Linked DNA regions of Homo sapiens. The protein of the gene in region 1 interacts with the protein of each later gene in a pairwise test. Each region holds a gene or a part of one and is shown on either strand. Other genes may lie near its edges.

Region 1 (3,518 bases):
ACTGGTGGTTTGAAATCAGAGAAGGGTTGAAATAGATTCTGGAGAAGAACAGCAACATTGACAAGGAGATAGGGGGATCATCAGGTACTCTTAGGGGGCACAGTTAAAGGTGGAGCTCTTATGTTGAGTAGTTCCAGCCTTACCATTGCAGAGCCCTGGGGCCCACATTTGTTTCTGGAACTAAAACCACCAGGGGCCCAGTGTCCTTCCTGCTTCTTCCTGCTGAGCCTCCACATCAGGGTTCCATCTCACCACCCAGCAACGTTCCCTGACCTTGAAGCCTATCCTTTATCTAAACGCAACACGCTTTCATCCTTGCTTTCCTGGTTAACTCCTACCCACCTTTCTCTACTCAGATCAGGCCAGGACTTTTTCAGAAGCCTTCCTTGACTGTTCCCCACATCCCCTGCCATGTGAGCAGGAAGTTTCTTCTCTATACCCAAATAGCCCCTCAAATACCTATTACAGCATAAAACATACAGCACTGTATCACTGATTTACTCGGCTGCCTCTCCCACTGGACTGCAACAACTTGAGGGCAGAGTGTTTTCACCTTTATAATGATCACTACTTAGTAGGTAGCTCAATACATGTGAAATTAATATAGGAGAAAAGAACTAAAGTCCAAAACCGACACAATTCTACAGGGTCATGATGTCCCCAGCCCGTGTCACACAAAGATGCTTCTAACCTTAGAAACCAACTCACAAAATAGAGAAATATCCTTTTGGTCTCAATATTATACCCCTTTTCCGTTCAGGAAGAAATCTTAGTAAACCCACAGAAAGGAAATATCCTTACATTATATTAAAGTACATTACCCCTTGCTCTCTCCTCTTCCCAAACACACAAAGCAGGAGGCATTGTATAAAGGCACTTTATTTTAAAATCAACACATCCTGCTTTTATAAATCAGTTACTCTTCATTTCCAACTTCCATCACCTGAGTTTGAGAGCAGAGTGCGTGGTATTTTTCTGGGCTTAAGGTATAAACTGACATGGCATTCAAGAACATGTCCAGCGGGCAGAGCCCATCAGGGCAACCTCTCGGCACCTGCTCCTGCAGAAGAAACATAACTCAGCAGGTCCGCCGAGGAACCTGTCCTTCTGCTATTTCCAGCTAAGCCCAGAGATCTGAGAGGCTCTGATCCATGTGGTATACATGTGCATACATATTACAGACAGGAAGGCCCCACTACCCGGTGAGCTTCCAGAATAAAAGCACTATGCTCTGCTTGTAAAAGTCACTCAAAAAGTGTTGAATTGACTGGGAAGAAAGAGTCGAGTTACATCCCCGAGCTGGGAGAACCAACAGGCTCATCCCTGGGGCGTGCTCTGGCCTCTGCCCTGGACCCCAGCCCTGATGAAGCAGCCAACACCACGGGTGCTAACAGCAGCACACATCACCTCCCAAAGATACCACCAACAATCTCCAAAACAGGTCTCACAGCCAGGAGGCGACATCCTGACAGGGACGCTCAGGAGAAGAGGAGGGGGACCCTGTTCCTAGGAGTCTGTAACAGAACTGGGATAAGGCTCAAGCCCCATCCTGCCACCATCTGTCAAGTTCTGCCTGACCCCTGGGCCATAGCCAGGAGTTGCCCTATAGGATTCAGAGAGCTGACTGTGCCAAGAGAGACTCCACTGGGCCTGAGGAGGGAGACTTGGTGCTAACTCAGGTAGGTGGGTTTTGCAGGAGGGTGCCTCACCACCACCCAACCCCACCTCAGGGGTATTACCTTCCCGTGGTAATAGAGCTGCACAAACCACTCCTTAGATTCCAGGTGCTGGTAAAGTTCCATGGTCAGGTCAACAGCAAACGGTGGCCATTTGTGGTCAAAAATCCCCAGGGTCATTAAGAGCGGTATGAAGGTCACATCATGAGCCGCATAGAGATACAGCTTTCTGCAAGAGGAAACAGCTCTCCACAATTCTCTGCCTCAGGACTCTGAAGGTCAGGATGTGGCCTGCCTCCTTTACGTAAGACACACTTGCCTCAGAAACTAGGTGACATCTAGAAATCAGCTGAGCCTGGTATAAAAGTCCTTTGCAGTAGATCGTGGGAAGAACCCTTGTTCCCACTCCCCGTGTCTTCATGAGGAGGGTCCCCGCCAGAGAAATTCTCCTGGCCTCCTCCTTGCCACCTACTCACTCCTCCCTGGTGAGTTTCAAAGAAGAAACTGAGCGTGTGTGGCTTAGACCCTACCTCTCTTCTCTCTTTGGGTCCTGCCAGCCTACATGAATGCCCTTCCTACTCTCAGCCATGGGATGAGTTTAGTAGGGCTCCTTGTTGGGGAAGCTTGAAGTTTTGGGGTATTAAGTTTATTTCAAAATAATATTCACAAGCCCATTTGGCCCTCAGCACATTCTCCAAATGGCTTTAATCTGTAATAAGAATGCCATTTTAATCTACATCTGCCTGACACCAGTATCCATCTCTTAGGAAAGACCAAGGATTTTATTTATGGACCCCCATCCTAGAAGACTAGCATTGGATCCTGTGGTGTTCTAAAGATCCAAGGCAGAAGGTGGCAAGGTGGCAAAAGCCAGAAAAAATGTACTGTCATTGCAGGTACTGTGAAGGACAGGAAATGGTATTCACAAGATTTGCTATTACAAATCTTGGCCCAAAGTTCCTGTTTCAACTCACTGTCTCCTATTCCTCTTACGCCATCATGAGTTTCTAGCTGTGATACCACAACAGTGCTTCTCCAAAATTCAGGTGACTATCAATCACCTGGGGATCTTGTTAAACTGCAGATGCTGATTTAGTAGATCAGGCTGGAGCCTGAGAACCTGATGAGTTCTTGGGCAACGGTGAAGCTGTTTTCCTGCAGAACGCACTTAGCAAGTGCCTAGGACACATAATATTCCACAGCCGTAGTCCCAACCTTGGATTCAAGGCTCCAAAAGTGGCAATGGAGGCTCATGAGCTACTTCCAACATTTTTTTTTTTTGAGACAGAGCCTGGCTCTGTCACCAGGCTGGAGTACAGTGGTGTGATCTTGGCTAACTGCAACCTCCGCCTCCTGGGTTCAAGCAACTCTCCTGACTCAACCTCCCGAGTAGCTGAGACTAAAGGTGCGTGCCACCATGCCCGGATAATTTTTGTATTTTTAGTAGAGCAGGGTTTCACCATGTTGGCCAGGATGTTTTCAATCTCCTGACCTCGTGATCCACTCACCTTGGCCTCCCAAAGTGCTGGGATTACAGGCGTGAGCCACTGCACCTGGCCACTTCCAATATTTTTAAATGCCTTATGGATATCATACCTTCTTTACACTCAATGAAAGTGGTTCAAACTACACAATCCATTAAGCAATTTATCTTTGTTTTGGACTATTATCATATCAAATCAGTGTGACATCATAATTGGCTACTGTTTGACATATCTTCAATTAATAAAAAAAAGAGAGAGAGAAAGCAAAAATAAAATTTTCAAAACATGGTAGGAGGGGTGCAGCAGGAAGAAAGGTTAAAAGATTGTGAACCTCTTTGACACTTGAGGCCTGTTAAAC
Region 2 (4,024 bases), on another chromosome or scaffold:
ATAGAGCCTGGCACGCGGTCAGCCGTCACAATCCTCTGTGGGAGTTTGCAGAACGAGAGAATGAAAGGGCGAAGGCAGGCTGGGCGTGGTGGCTCACGCCTGTAATCCCAGCACTTTGGGAGGCTGAGGCAGGTGGATCATGAGGTCAGGAGATCGAGACCATCCTGGCTAACACGGTGAAACCTCATCGTTACTAAAAAAAAAAAAAAAAATACAAAAATTAGCCAGGCATGGTGGTGGGTGCCTATAGTCCCAGCTACTCTGGAGGCTGAGGCAGGAGAATGACGTGAACCCGGGAGGTGGAGCTTGCAGTGAGCCGAGATGGTGCCCCTGCACTCCAGCCTGGACGACAGAGCAAGACTCCGTCTCAAAAAAAAAAATAAAGAAAAAATAAAGAAAGGGCAAAGGCAATAGGCCAGGCCCTCTGGAGAAGGGAGGACCCACGCAGGCTCCCGGGTGGCCTGCCTCAGTCCATGGCAGGGGTTCTTGCCCTCCAGGGGACACTGGGTGATATCTGGGGACATCTGTGGCTGTGGGGGGTGCTCCTGGCATGGAGTGGGTTGGGTGGAGGCCAGGGACATTGCTCAGCTCCCTGCAGTGCCCCGGACGGCCCCACGCCAGGGAAGGATCCGAACGCGATATCCATAGTACCCAGGGGAGACCCTGGGTCAGGGCAGGGATCACAGCAGAACCCCTGGTGACTGTCCCCCTCCGTGTTTTTTTTTTTTTTTTTTTGAGACAGAGTCTTGCTCTGTTGCCCAGGCTGGAGTGCAGTGGTGTGATCTCGGCTCACTGCAACCTCTGCCTCCCGGGTTCAAGCGATTCTCCTGCCTCAGCCTCCCGAGTAGCTGGGATTACAGGCACGTGCCACCACACCCGGCTAATTTTTGTATTTTTAGTACAGACAGCGTTTCACCATGTTGGCCAGGCTGGTCTTGAACTCCTGACCTCAGGTGATCCACCCTCCTCGGCCTCTCAAAGTGCTGGGATGACAGGTGTGAGCCCGGCCTCTCCTCCGTGTCCTTCATATTGAACCAGTCAGGAGCCCATGCTGTTGCTTCTTGAATTCTCCTGGAAAAACCCAGGACCTCAACAGGGCAGACGATCACAGGACGCAGAGTCTCTTGGGAGTCCGTGGAATCCCCAGATCTCATCTGGGGATGACTCTGCCCTCCATGGAGCACTGGGTGATGTCTGGGACATTTGTGGCTGTCATGACTTGGGGGTGCTCCTGGCAGGGAGTGGGTGGAGGCCACGGATGCTGCTCAGCACCCTGCAGTGCCCAGGACGGCCCCGCTCCAGGGAACGATCCAGCCCCACGTGTCAGTAGTGTCCAGCCTAGAGAAACCTGCTTCGTAGGACCCAGTGAGGGGGTTGGTGCTGATGGGGGTGGCAGGGGCAGGGGCCAGGTTCAAGAGTCCTGGGCAGCCGCAGTCCCAGCCGGGCGTCTGTGAGCAGTTAATTAAGCCGCACCCTGTCTCTGTCATAACTCATGGCATCGCTGTCTGTTTTGCAGAGCCAGGCAGCCGCAGAGAAGTCAAGGCAGATTCCAGAGTTCTCAAAAAATGCCTACTTAGTGATAAGAAGGAAAGGACTGGCCGGGCGCGGTGGCTCACGCCTGTAATCCCAGCACTTTGGGAGGCCGAGGCGGGCGGGTCACAAGGTCAGGAGATCAAGACCATCCTGGCTAACACGGTGAAACCCCGTCTCCCGGGCGTGGTGGCGGGTGCCTGTAGTCCCAGCTACTCGGGAGGCTGAGGCAGGAGAATGGGGTGAACCCGGAAGGCGGAGCTTGCAGTGAGCAGAGATCACGCCACTGCACTCCAGCCTGGGGGACAGAGTGAGACTCTGTCTCAAAAAAAAAAAAAAAAAAAAAAAAAAAAGAAGGAAAGGACCATCCATGCATACCACACCGCAGGGGAATCTCCAGGGCCTGGGATGTGTAGCATGCTTCTGTTTGTGTAATGTGTTTAAGAGGACTTTTTTTAGACAGAGTCTCGCTCTGTTGCCCAGGCTGGAGTGCAGTGGCATGATCTCAGCTCACTGCAAGCTCCGCTTCTCCAGCTCCAGCGATACTCTCACTTCTGCCTCCTGAGTAGCTGGGATTACAGGTGCATGTGCCACCATGCCTGGCTAATCTTTGTATTTTTGGTAGAGACATGGTTTTACCATGTTGGCCAGGCTGGTCTCAAACTCCTGGCCTCAAGTGATCTGCCTGTCTCGACCTCCCAAAGTGCTGGGATTACAGGCATGAGCCACCATGCCCGGCCCAAGGACGAAATTTTAGAAATGGAGAACAGATTAGCGGCTGCCAGGGATCAGGGAGGGGCAGGGGCTGGGAGGGAGATAGGTCTCTGTATAAAAGGGCAACACAGCCAGGCATGGTGGCTCTTGCCTGTAATACCAGCACTTTGGGAGGCTGAGATGCGAGGATCACTTGAGTCCAGGAGTTTGAGGCCAGCCTAGGCAACATAGCAAGACCCCCTCTCTACAAAAAATTAGAAAATTAGCTGGGCATGGGTAGCGCACTCCTGTGGTCCCAGCTACTTGGGAGGCTGAGGTGGGAGGATCACTTGAGCCTGGGAGGTTGAGGCCAGACTGGGCAATTTAGTGAGACCCCATCTCTGAATAAATAATAAAAGGGCAACACGAATGATCCCTGTTAGTGCCTCAACTACGGTGATGAATCCACAAGCCTACATGAGTGATAAACTCACAGAGAGCCTCACACACTCACACACCAGCGGGCACAATACTGAATACTGTGGAACCTGAGTGAGGCTGGTGGGTGTGTGACTGTCTGGCTGCGATCCTGCCCATAGCTTTACCAAATGTTACCACCAGGGACGGCCGGGGAATGACACACAGAATTCCTCTACATTCTTTGTTAGCACTGGCTGTGACTCCACGGCGATCTCAATAAAAGGGGCAATTAAACAAAAAATCCCTTTGACACCGCCCAGCCTCCTTGGTTTCCAGCAGACGTCCCACCCCCACTTTTTGGGGGCAGAGAAGGCCCAATCTGTCTGCTCTGGAGGCAGAGCCCACGTGTGGCCGCTCAGAGGGCTCTGATTCCAGAGAGCTTCAAAGCAGCCACAAAACATCCAACTCAGGGAAAACCGCCCTTGGTTGGGCTTAAAAATACCTAAATTACTCAGTGCTAAAAATACGTGCACGCAGAGAACAAACGGGCTGGCCGCACCTCCTGTTTTCCTTGGAAGGCCAGGGGGTCCTATTTAGCATCCACAGTCAGGAGTGTCCACCCAGACCCTGGGCCCCTGCTGCCCTGGGCAGCCACCGCCCGCAATTTCCATGTGAGCATCAGGTCCTGAGCCGTGCTGGCTTTTCTGTTTTGGGCGAAATTCCCTGCGAGATGCTGCCTTTGGGCTGGGTAATAACCCAGGCCTGCCAGGAAGGCCAGAGAGGACTGCGCTGTGTGTGTGTGTCTATGTTTATTTGCATGTATGTCAATGATGCACATGTGACTGTACACGTGTGTACACGTGGTGTGCATGTCAGTGTGCACATGTGTATGTGTGTGCACATGTGCATGTATGTGTACCTTGCGTGTGCATGTATGTGTGTATGTGTATACTGGCATTCATGAGTGTGCATATATGCGTGTGTGCACACATATCTGCATGTGTATGTGTACCTGCATATGCATGGGTGTGCACGTCAGCATGCATATGAGTGTGCATCCTTGCATGTGTGTACATGTGCATGTGTCTATATGAGTGCATGTACACATCTACGTGTGTGCGTCTGCATATGAGTGTGTGCATAGGTGCATTTGCATACGTGCATGTGTGTGGACATGCATGCCAGTGTGCACGTGTGTATGTGCACGTGTGTGGACACGGCACTGCATGTGCGTGTGCGCACACGTGTGTGGGCATGCATGTCACTATGGGTGTGTGCATGCGTGTTGGCGTGTGTGTACGTCACTGTAGGTGCGTGGATATGTGCGTGCGTGGGTGTGTACATGTGTCTGCATGTGTACATGCGTGTGCGTGTGTGTGCG

What was found.
Region 2: the proteins of ACP6 (region 1) and GNG7 interact in a two-hybrid assay, tested with the Homo sapiens proteins (one large-scale study listed by BioGRID and IntAct).

The regions. Positions count from the first base shown.
Region 1 is NC_000001.11:147,646,507-147,650,024, forward strand, and holds part of ACP6 (lysophosphatidic acid phosphatase type 6), read right to left. Parts: intron 1,906-3,518; coding exon 1,740-1,905; coding exon of another isoform or gene 1,671-1,739; exon of another isoform or gene 1,061-1,670; coding exon 917-1,060; 3' UTR 1-916. UniProt on the Homo sapiens protein: Hydrolyzes lysophosphatidic acid (LPA) containing a medium length fatty acid chain to the corresponding monoacylglycerol.
Region 2 is NC_000019.10:2,520,897-2,524,920, forward strand, and holds part of GNG7 (guanine nucleotide-binding protein G(I)/G(S)/G(O) subunit gamma-7), read right to left. Parts: intron 1-4,024. UniProt on the Homo sapiens protein: Guanine nucleotide-binding proteins (G proteins) are involved as a modulator or transducer in various transmembrane signaling systems.